2 separate regions of the Homo sapiens genome follow, and region 2 is linked to region 1. Evidence: fine-mapped expression QTL. A gene starts in region 1. The other region holds a variant in brackets. All regions are shown on one strand. Distances are between the middles of the regions.

Region 1 (5,380 bases):
TGTCCAAGCCATTTCAGTCTCATTCAAGACTTTGAATATTTCCATACATAGGAATTGCACAACTGCATACCACAAATGATCAAAGATAAAAACCAACATAAACAGTGACACCCGTTTGTAAACAAGCCAGTGTTTAAAATGCTGCAGTCCTAAAGGATACCAAGGTCTCAGAGAAAAACTATGAAAAACACACGCACGCACATATACACACACATGAAAATTAGAAAGCGGGCAGACCAGCCATAATTAGGCACTGGCTTTGCTGACTACTGAAGATAGAAATGTCTCTTTTATATTAAAGCCAAGAATCAACTGTTTGCAATTACATTTACGAAAACATTCAACCCTGTCTGTAACAGATTTTATCAATATTTTGGTGTATCCAAGGGCTGGAAGATTCAAAATTCTTTAAATCATGAAACCATAAACCAGGCAACCAATTAAGTTCATGGAGACTATCCCCCAGAGGTCAGAGCAAAATAACCACAGGAGCACAAAGTGATTACACAGAAAATAGGCAGAAAAAAAGGAAAGAAATAGCAAAACAAGGAACAAGGCATATTGTTTGTAAATGTAAGTTTGCCTTGGCTAATAGTCAACTAGACTGGAAACACGGTGAGGGGCTGGGGTGGCAAGTGAGGAGCACACCAAAGTCTTGGCTCAATCGACTTCCCCTGACTTCCCCTCAGGGTCTGAGGGAGCCCTGGACTTTGGTATCTCATTCAGCTCTGACCTGCAGACTGGAGGCCCTGTGATAAAAACGGACAAAAAGGCTGAAGAGGGCCCTCCAGAGGAAGTGAAACTGACCAATCAATTCGCCACAGCCACCCACCCTGACACCCTGGTAAGAAGGGCCCCTTGTAGCCTCAGGCAGAAAGATGGTGGGGAAGGAACTTCAGGTTGCAAGTGATCAGGAGAGAAGGCCTAGATAAGTCACTGGCTTCAGAAAACAAGCCACTGCCAAAAAAGCAAAAACAAGGTAGGTCATGACAACCAGAGGCTAGGCTGAGGAGGTGAGGGGAATTGATGTGGCTTTGGTAGGAGGCGGCAGCAGCTGTAAGGGTTCTTCATTCCTCAGGCTGAGGGAAAACACAAGCTGCAGTTCTAAACATAATGAATGACTACATTAAAAGTATTCATTCAAGTAAGATATTGAGCAAAGAAAATTTTAGAGTAAAAATGGGCTTTGCGGGTTCCACCAAAACCAAAAGATTCCTCCTGATGTCTTAGATTCCAGTCCTCCCAACGAAGGCTACATGAAAGTGCTACCATATTTCCTCAAAGAATTTTACATGCATACATATATAGCTTCCTAATTGACCTTGGCCAATTTCACTCCTATAGCGCCTCAAATCCCTTTGAGAACTAAGGGCTCGATGAGTGTAATCTCCCGGTGTCTGGGTTCTTCAATCACAAGCTTCCCCCCAACCAGTAAAAGCCCACCCTGGGTTCTACAAAGCCCACAATTCCCGACCCTCCAACAACTAAAAATAACCAGCAATCAGCTCTCCCAAATTGTTTAACCCCTGACTACCTAGTGCCATCATAAACCTGGGACAGCCCCCACCCCCACCTCACTCCCCCATTCCCTGGGCCCCTTCCTGTGGACAAGCAAAGCAATTTCCCCCTTATTTCCCCATTTTCCTCATTGCCTCCTCCACTAATCGTGTCTCCTCGGGATCCCCTTCGCACCATCTATCAGTCTTAGATGATCAAATGCGGATTCCTGTCTCTGTCTTAAGGCACCAGGATCCTGGGACCTCCCAGCGCCCTGCAGACGTGCACATTCCCAGTCCGTGCCCCAGCCGTCCTGGGTCCCCTTACAAGCCCGGGTCTGCCACTTCACCCTTGTTTTTCCCCATCCTCCGGGTCCACATTTCATATGCCCCTGCCCTCATTCCCTTATGATTCCCTAGCTGCTGGTTCCAGAGTCTTCTGGGCTTACAGTCTCCCGGCCCTCGGGGAGTTCCGACCCCTTCTTTCCAATCATCCCCTTTACCCGCCTGCCCTCAGCCCCGAGGACCCCTCCCCGCGCCCGGCTCCTGGGCGCCGGTGCTCTGTGCCCTCGGCCCCCTGCTTGGAGTTCCGCCGTCTCGAGTCCCAGGTGTCCCTAGCTCCGCGCCCGCCCCGCCGCGGCTGGCTCCCTCCCGCCTCCCGGCCCCCAACGCTCCCACCACGCGCCGCGCTCGCCGCCCCGACCCCCCGGCTGGGGGGCGCGGACCTCTCCCGGCCCCGCCACGCTCCGACTGCCGCCTGGCCCCTGCGCCGGTACCTTGGCCTTGGTGACGAGGTGCGTGGCCCGCTTGACCACCGCGAAGTTGCCCTTGCCGATGGTGCGGTCGATCTCGTAGTAGCCGATACGGGCGGGCATGGGTCCGCGGGAGGCCGGGGCTGGGGGACGCGGCTGGCCGGCCGCAGGGGACACGGCAGCGGGGGCGGCTGGGGACCCCGGCGCGGGCGGAGGCAGCAGGCGGCCCGCGGGCCCGGCTCCCCCAGTCCCGGCCCCGGCAGCCCCGCCAGCTCCGCTCGCCGCCGCCGCCGCCATCTTGTTGTGCAGTGAAACCTCCGGGGCCGCGGGGAGCCGGCTCGGGGGAGGGGGCAAGGGGGGGCGGGAAAGGGGGGGCCGCGGACGTCACTCGGGGAGGCGGGGCGCTTTCGCCGACCGGCGCCCGGCTCCATGGCAACCGCGGGTCACGTGCCGACGCGCGTCACTGCCCGGAGCCATGGCAACCGTGACCTCACCGGCGGGCTCGACCTTCCCGCGTGGGCCCCGGTTCCTGAGGCGCTGGCTCCCGGGTGCCCCCCTCCGGGAGCTGGCGGTGGGAACCTTCGATGGGCCCCCAACCTCGAAGTCTCCGCCACCTTTCCCGAGTGGGGGGCGCAGGATGCCCGACCCAAAGCCAACCCCCCACCGCCGCTCGAATCGCCAATGTGACCTCTGCTGTGACCTCTGTCCCAGTTCAACGATCACCCAACCTCCCTTAACAAAAAAAAAGTGTTTCCTCATCACCAAAAATACCAGCGTTGTCCCACTTTAGCCCTTGAGGCCACAAATGCAGGAATAGCTACACTCTTGAAGCAACTGTAACCAAGTTGGTAACAACGCAGGGGAATTCTTCGGTAAAATTCCTTCCTCTTACAAAATCCAGCTCACCCTGCACAGTCAACCTAATTGTCACCGAATATAGGAGAATGGGGAAACTAGGATTTGCGTGTTCAAGGGCGGACAAGCCAGTCCAAACAGGCATTCCAGTCATTGGGTGGGTGACAGCCAAAGAAGGTACGTCATTTTCCTTCCTACCACCCCCATCTCTGAACAATTCTACAGGGATGTCTGTCAGAGTGCCTACATACTATTTCTGTTGCTTGTATAACCCTGATGAAGCAGTGGTGCGCATTGTCCAATGAACCACGTCGTGTTTAAACAACAGTCGGTTAAGCAAAATAAATAAGTAAATAATAAAAATTCCATCCTTCCTAGTGACTCTCCGAGGACATTGAGGGTCATCAAGTTAATAACTCCAGCAATTTCATATCTCTTTTTCTTCCCTTGCCTATTACCTGCATCCTTCATAGCTCCCAGGCTTCCTCCTCCTCTCTCCCCTTCCCTTTATTAAATAGATTAACTTAGCTGCTTTAGGTGAGGGTTGCAGGTAGGAAATCAGACTGTCAACAAAATAGTCTTTGGCAGGCTGGGTGGAAAGGAGGGAAGATTGTGAATATTCCAATGTTAAAATGTATTCCTTTGGACTAGTCCTGATCCATCCATATCTATGTCTCTCTCAATGGTAGAACTGTATTGTGAGGTCACTGCATGCACAGTATTAAAAACTGACACCCAGGGCACTGTAAATGTGTGGAAGGATAACTCGTGTTTACTCGCTGACCAAAGAACACCTCCTGGTGCTCCAATTCCCTATCCAACCATGAGTAATGGCTGGGACTTAAGATGGGACAGAGGGGTCATCCCACAATGGTCTTGGATCTATTCCCTGGTAGCTGTTCCAAACTGCCAACACAATTAACACTAATTGGCTCCCTTATTAGCAACTAAAGATAAGAATGAAGTGGGCCTTGGCTTCTTGCATTGGTTAAGCCCTTTCATCAGCTGAGCTCATTCCATCCCAGATAAATGATGGGGTGTGACCTGCCTCTCCTATCACTTCATGGCTCTCAGCTGCCTCTAGCAGGGACTATAACTTTGGTGCTGGGCTTCACAGCTGCAGTTTTTGGGTTTTTGTTTTTTTTTTTAGACAGAGTCTCACTCTGTCACCCAGGCTGGAGTGCAGTGGTGCAATCTCAGCTCACCACAACCTCCACCTCCCAGGTTCAAGCCATTCTCCTGCCTCAGCCTCCCGAGTAGCTGAGACTACAGGCGCACACCACCATGCCCGGCTAATTTTGTATTTTTAGTAGAGACGGGGTTTCGATATGTTGGCCAGACTGGTCTCGAACTCCTGACCTCGTGATCCCCCCGCCTCAGCCTCCCAAAGTGCTGGGATTACAGGCGTGAGCCACCGTGCCCAGCTACAGCTGCAGTTTTACCATCTCCCTGGGTGTCTCAACAGAAACCTTAGCTGGCTAGTAAAGCAAATAAAAAAATCTTTCACTGTGGAAGCTGCAGGAGCAGCACTGAAACCATTCTTACTGATGACTGTATGATCACAGAGTGTCCTCCACTAATGGAGGTAATTCGAACATCAAATATCAGAACTTTTGCTACTCTCTCAAGAGTGTCAAAAACAAAAACAACTCTGGGAAGGACCTAGAAAATGCAGCATTGTTCTAATTTCCACAGAGAAGAAGCAGATGACTCTTGTCCCTCAATAATGACCAGAACATATGCTGTGTGCTGTGTGTTATGTCACTTACGCTCCTTTCCTGTATAGATTGAGGTCACTAGATGGTGTTTCTGATTGAGACTTTGGTAGAGACTTGCTGGAGATCTCCTTGAAGAATAGTCCTCTTTGGCACAAAGAATATAGAAAATTAGAGAAGGGAGTAATCAAAGGAGATCATCAGGCAAAAAGGAAAATAGTTTAGATGTTTACGTTTAATAAGGATTTATTGAGTACCAAGAACTGAGTTAGGTTCTGAGAGAAACTCAGAGGAAATAGCAATCTGCCACGCGTTATGCTAAACAGTGTACCTAAGGGAACTCACTTAATCTTCACAACAACCTAATTAGATGGTTTGTATTATATCTCTATTTTGCAGATAAGGAAAATGAGGCACATAGGGATTAGGGGAATTGGCCAAAATCACAGAGCTAGAAAGTGATAGAACTGGGATTAAAACCCAGGCAACCTACCTCTGGAACCTAGGATCTTCCCCATTGTATTATAATCCCTGTCAAGGTAGGAGCCAGTAGGAAAAGTGG
Region 2 (5,380 bases), 45 kb before region 1:
TAGAAAAGGTAACCAGAGTCAGACTGCAGAAGAGTCCTGTGATGGTTAATTTTATGTGCCAAGTTGACTAAGCTAAGGAATGGCCCAGACAGCTGATAAAACATTTCTAGGTGGGTCTCTGAGGGTATTTCTGCAAGAGATTAGCATTTGAATCAGTAAACTAAATAAAGAAGACCCACACTCACCAATGAGGGTGGGCGTCATAATCTGTTTACCCTTTTCCACCCAGAGAGAGCAAACGGCAGAGGAAGAGCAAATTCACTCTTTCTTCTTGAGCTGGGATATCCATCTTCTCCCACTCTTGGACATCAAAGCTCCTGGTTCTTGGGTCTTTGGACTCCAGGACTTACACCAGCACACCACCCCTTCCCAATTCCCAGGCCTTCAGCCTTGATTCCCCTGGTTCTCAGGACCTCAGACTCCAACTTAATTACACCACCAGCTTTCCTGGTTCTCCAGGTTGCACATGGCCTATCATAGGATTTCTCGGCCTCCATGATCACATGAATCACATGAGCCAACTTCCATAATAAACCTCCTCTTATACCTATCTATGTATCTATTATATATATAAAATAAACCTCTTCTATATCTATAGATATAGATATGGAAACTTATTATGAAGGTTTTGGGGTTTTTTTCCTTGTTTTTTGTTTTTTGAGACCGAGTCTCCCTCAGTCACCCAGGCTGGAGTGCAATGGCGCAATCTCAGCTCACTGCAACCTCCACCTCCTGGGTTCAAGTGATTGTCTGCCTCAGCCTTCCAAATAGCTGGGATTTACAAGTGCACACCACCATGCCCGGCTAATTTTTGTATTTTTAATAGAGATGGGGTTTCAACATGTTGGCCGACCTGGTCTCAAACTCCTGACCTCAGGTGATCTGCCCGCCTCAGCCTCCCAAAACGCTGGGATTACAGGCATGAGCTACAACGCCTGGCCTATAGAGGTTTATTACAGAAATCCATCTATCCAGGCCGGGCGTGGTGGCTCATGCCTGTAATCCCAGCACTTTGGAAGGCTGAGGCAGGTGGATCACGAGGTCAGGAGTTTGAGATCAGCCTGGCCAACATGGTGAAATCCCGTCTCTAATAAAAATGCAAAAATTAGCCGGTCGTGGTGGCAGGCGCCTGTAATCCCAGCTACTCAGGAGGCTGAGGCAGGAGAATTGCTTGAAACCGGAAGGCGGAAGTTGCAGTTTGCAAGATAGTGCCACTGGACTCGACTGGGCAACAAGAGTGAAACCCTGGGAAAAAAAAAGAGAAAAAAAGAAAGGAAAGAAATCTCTCTCTCTCTCTCTGGAGAATCCTAATACAAGTCCAGAATGACAAGCTAAAACTTGGAACTTTCCTTGTATATGATGGGGTATTTTGCGAGGATTTTTTATAATGCATGAGAAAAGTCAAAGTAAGGCTTTATAAATATTAATATCATAGCAGTAGGCAGGAGAGACTGCAGCGAACCTAAAGGTAGAAAGACCAGTTACTATTGCAGTAGCCCAGGCATGGTGGGGTGTTAAGGGTTGGCAGTAAAACCTGACCATAAGGGGCTTAAGAGTTTAATACCCTGAAATCCTCTATAAAGAGTCTATCTCCGGCATTCATTCTGAGCTCTCTATCATGTTTACAATAAAGAAATCTCTTCTCTGAATCACATTTTAACATTTCAATCTTCAGCAGGTTTATAAGAAGAAAGTGGAAAAGGCAGAAACAGCTCTCTTTATTATCCCCAACAAAACAAAAGTCTTATAGCAGCCTTTGTGGCCTTGGATTGTATCCCTTTAAGCAAAAATAAATCAGAAGTCCTCTTATGCTCTGGGATTAACCTCCTTCCAATGACTACATGCTGTCAGTTACAATCTACCTATTGCAGATAGGAAGCTTCATTGTAATAGCAAATTTCTGGTTGAAGAGCTTGCTAAGGTCCAATCCCAAACAGCTTTGTGGCTCTAATGCCGTAGTTTCAGAAAGCAATACTTTCCAGATGCATGCTGCTGACTGCTGCAATGCAGGAGGACCTGGCACTTTATTCTGGGCTACACAAACAGCACATCTGATTGTTTACTGGGTCCCACTGTGTACTACATACTGATGACACAAAGATGATTAAAATAGCCCACCTTCAAAAAAGCCACAGTCTATTGGGAAATATACACAAAAAAGTAACTGCAGGCCGGGCGCGGTGGCTCATGCCTGTAACCCCAGCACTTTGGGAGGCCGAGGTGGGTGGATCACAAGGTCAGGAGTTCAAGACCAGCCTGGCCAACACGGTAAAACCCTGTCTCTACTAAAAATACAAAAATTAGCTGGGCATAGTGGCATACACCTATAATCCCAGCTACTCAGGAGGCTGAAGCAGGAGAATTGCTTGAACCCAGGAGGCGGAGGTCACAGTGAGCCTAGATCATGCCACTACACTCCAGCCTGGGCAACAGAGCAAGACTCTGTCTTGGAAAAAAAAAAAAAAAGTAAAGTGGCAAATGCTATTATAGGTAAGTATGTAAGAAATGCTTTGAGAATAATAATAATAGCTATATTTATGAAGTACTTAGTAATATGCAAGCCCTTTCAATGCATTTTCCCTACATTAATTCACTTAACCCTCACAGCAAGACTAATATTACTCATTTGTTATAAATGAGAAAACTGAGACACAAAAAAGTTAAACAGTTTCATCCCAGTTATATACAACTACCTTAATAACAAAGGCAGTCTGGCTCCAAACTCAGGGATTTTAACTTACCACTATATTGCCTCTTTCCCC[C/G]CTCCCACCCTACCCCCTCCACTGAGACAAGGTCTTACTCTGTCACCCAGGCTGGAGCACAATCATGGCTCACTGCAGCCTCAAACTCCTGGGCTCAAGTGATCCTTCTCCCTCAGCATCCAGAGTAGCTGAAACCACAGGCATGTGCCACCATGCCCAGCTAATTTTTTTAGTTTTTGTAGAGATGGGGTCTTGCTGTATTGCCCAGGCTGGTCTCGAACTCCTGAGCTCAAGCAATCCTCCCTACTTGGCCTTCCAAAGTGCTGGGATTACAGATGTGAGCCACCACACCCAGCATTTTCTTTCTATTTTTTTCAAAGAGACAAGGTCTTGCTATGCTGCCCAGGCTGGCCTCAAGCAATCCTCCTGCTTCAGACTCCCAAGTAGCTAGGACTGTGGGTATATACCTCTCACCAGCTTATATTGCCTCTTATAATGAGGGACTAACTAATGTTGCCTTGGATGGCAGTTAAGACTAAAGAGAAAAGAGCGTAGAAGATATATTTGAGACAGACCACTGAAGAATCACCAGGAATTCACCAGACAGACTAGATGTTTGGGGTGGAAGGCTGAGTGCTTATTAGCAGGGAGTGCTTGAGGGGACAACCCTCTAAGCAAAAAGAAGGCAGGTACAGCAACAGCAGGTCAGGGACAAAGGTATGAGATTTAGAGTACAGGGTGCAGTCACAGAACAGTCAGTAGTCTGCATATACTGTAGGACCCATGGGTCCCAGAACAAGAGGGGAGGCTCTAAAGATGACTGTGGTGTAGTGGGCCTTGGAGGCTTTATATTTCAGGTAAGAGAGACCCATCAGAGGCCTTTCTGCTGAGTGATATGAGCAGATCTACCTACTATAAAGATAACTCAGGATGAAAGGTACAAGATGGCCAAGAGGCCAGGAGAGCAATTAGGAGATTACCACAATAATTGTGTCAAGAAATGATAAGGAGTGGTTGGATGCAAGCACATGTTTCGGAAGCACAATCAACAGTACTTGATAGGCCAGGTGTGGTGGTTCACACCTGTAATCCCAGCACTTTGGCAGAGGTGGGAGGATCACTGGAGCCCAAGAATTCAAGACCAGCTTAGACAACATAGTGAGACCCCATCTCTATAAATAATTTTAAAATAAATAAAAATTAAGATGTTTAAAATGAAAATACAAAATAACAGTACTTGCTGACTGGTTGCATATGAAGGATAAGGAAGACAGGCAGACAGGCAAAGCTATCCTGAGGCTCTTTTTCTGGGCAGAACAGGACAAAAAGGGGATCAGCATTTAAAAGGAATAATAATAATAGCAACTAATATTTATTAAGATATTAGTATATACCAGCACTATGCTAAATACTTTTACAAGAATTATCTCATTTAATATTGATAAAATAAGTTCATTATCACCCTTTCATAAATGGAGAAATGGAGGCTTAAAGAAAATAAGTAGTTTATTCACGGACACAGTCACTAAGCACTGAAGCCACAGAAAGACTCTGACTTTAGATAAACTGAGTTTAAGATATCTGGGGAGGCATCCAAATGTAGATTTCTAACAGGCAGCTCAATATTTTTGTACGAACTTAAGCTAAGAGTACCACAGATACAGATTTATAATAACAATGTAACTATACTGTTGTTACTATTCCTATTATTAGCATTTATTAAGCACTTAGTGTACATGAGACACTATTTTAAATGTTTTACACACATTATTCATTTACTCCACACAATCCTGAGATAGGTAGCTCTAGTCTCCCCACTCTTACTTACAGAGAAAGAAACAGAAACATAGAGACAAAGTAAATCATTCCGTGTCTCTTAGGGAGAAAATAATGGAGCCAGATTCAAATCCTGGTCTCTCTGGTTTGGATGAGGGAACAGAAGAGAAGGTGGGGCTACAGGTGGGTTGGATAGAGGAGCCAAGGACAAAATCCAGAAGAATATAATCGCTTAACAAGTAGGCAGAGAAACAGGCACTATCTCATAGGATGGTTGTAAAGATAAGTAAAAGCACACAAAGGACTTGGCTAGGGCCACAGTTTGAATGTCTCCGCCTCTAAAAGTCAGATGTTGCCAACGTGATGGTATTAAGAAGTCGGGCCTTTAAGACATCATTAAGTCATGAGGGTTCCTCCGTTCATGAATGCAATTAGGTGCCCTTAAAAATGGGCTTGATGGAGGGAGTTACTCCCTTTTTGCCCTTCTGCCTTCTGCCATGTGAGGACACAGCATTCAAGGCATCGTCTAAGAAGCAGAGACCAAATCCCCATCAATGAACCTGCCAGTGCCCTCCCAGCCTCCAGAACTATGAGAAAATAAAATTCTGTTATTTATAAATTACCCAGTGTCAGGTATTCTCCTATAGCAGCACAAAAGAACTGACAGCAACCAAAGCTCTATCAGTTTGGAGGATGTGCTACAGGATGAGGAGACAGAAGAGAACCAACAGGGAAGTAGATATATTAAATGGAAAAGGATTAGTTAATAAAACAAAGTCCCTGGATTAAGAAAATGTGGCACATATACACCATGGAATACTATTTAGCCATAAAAAAGGATGAGTTCATGTCCTTTGTAGGGACATGGATGAAACTGGAAACCATCATTCTCAGCAAACTAT

Which allele goes with the higher level. Positions count from the first base shown, and alleles are read on the strand shown. Sizes are in standard deviations (SD) of each study's normalised expression.
For the expression in aorta of the gene that starts at base 2,558 in region 1, C is the high allele of the variant in region 2 and G is the other (small effect, 0.27 SD a copy in GTEx).

The links. PIP is the estimated chance that this variant, and not a neighbour inherited with it, causes the effect. A credible set is the group of variants that fine-mapping cannot tell apart.
Region 2: its variant is the best candidate, but not a certain one, in a credible set for the expression of SIK3 in aorta (GTEx, PIP 0.65).

The regions. Positions count from the first base shown.
Region 1 is chr11:117,095,871-117,101,250 of GRCh38, forward strand. SIK3 (SIK family kinase 3) reads right to left here and starts at 2,558. Exons shown (of 25, transcript NM_001366686.3): 1 at 2,273-2,558. The coding sequence starts at 2,545. RefSeq lists an enhancer at 1,066-1,115 and silencers at 2,437-2,486, 2,567-2,746.
Region 2 is chr11:117,050,888-117,056,267 of GRCh38, forward strand. All of the region lies in intron 1 of SIK3 (SIK family kinase 3), which reads right to left. Among named protein-coding and RNA genes, the nearest start is that of SIK3, 45 kb to the right of the region's middle. The variant C/G (reference allele first, on the strand shown) is at 2,763.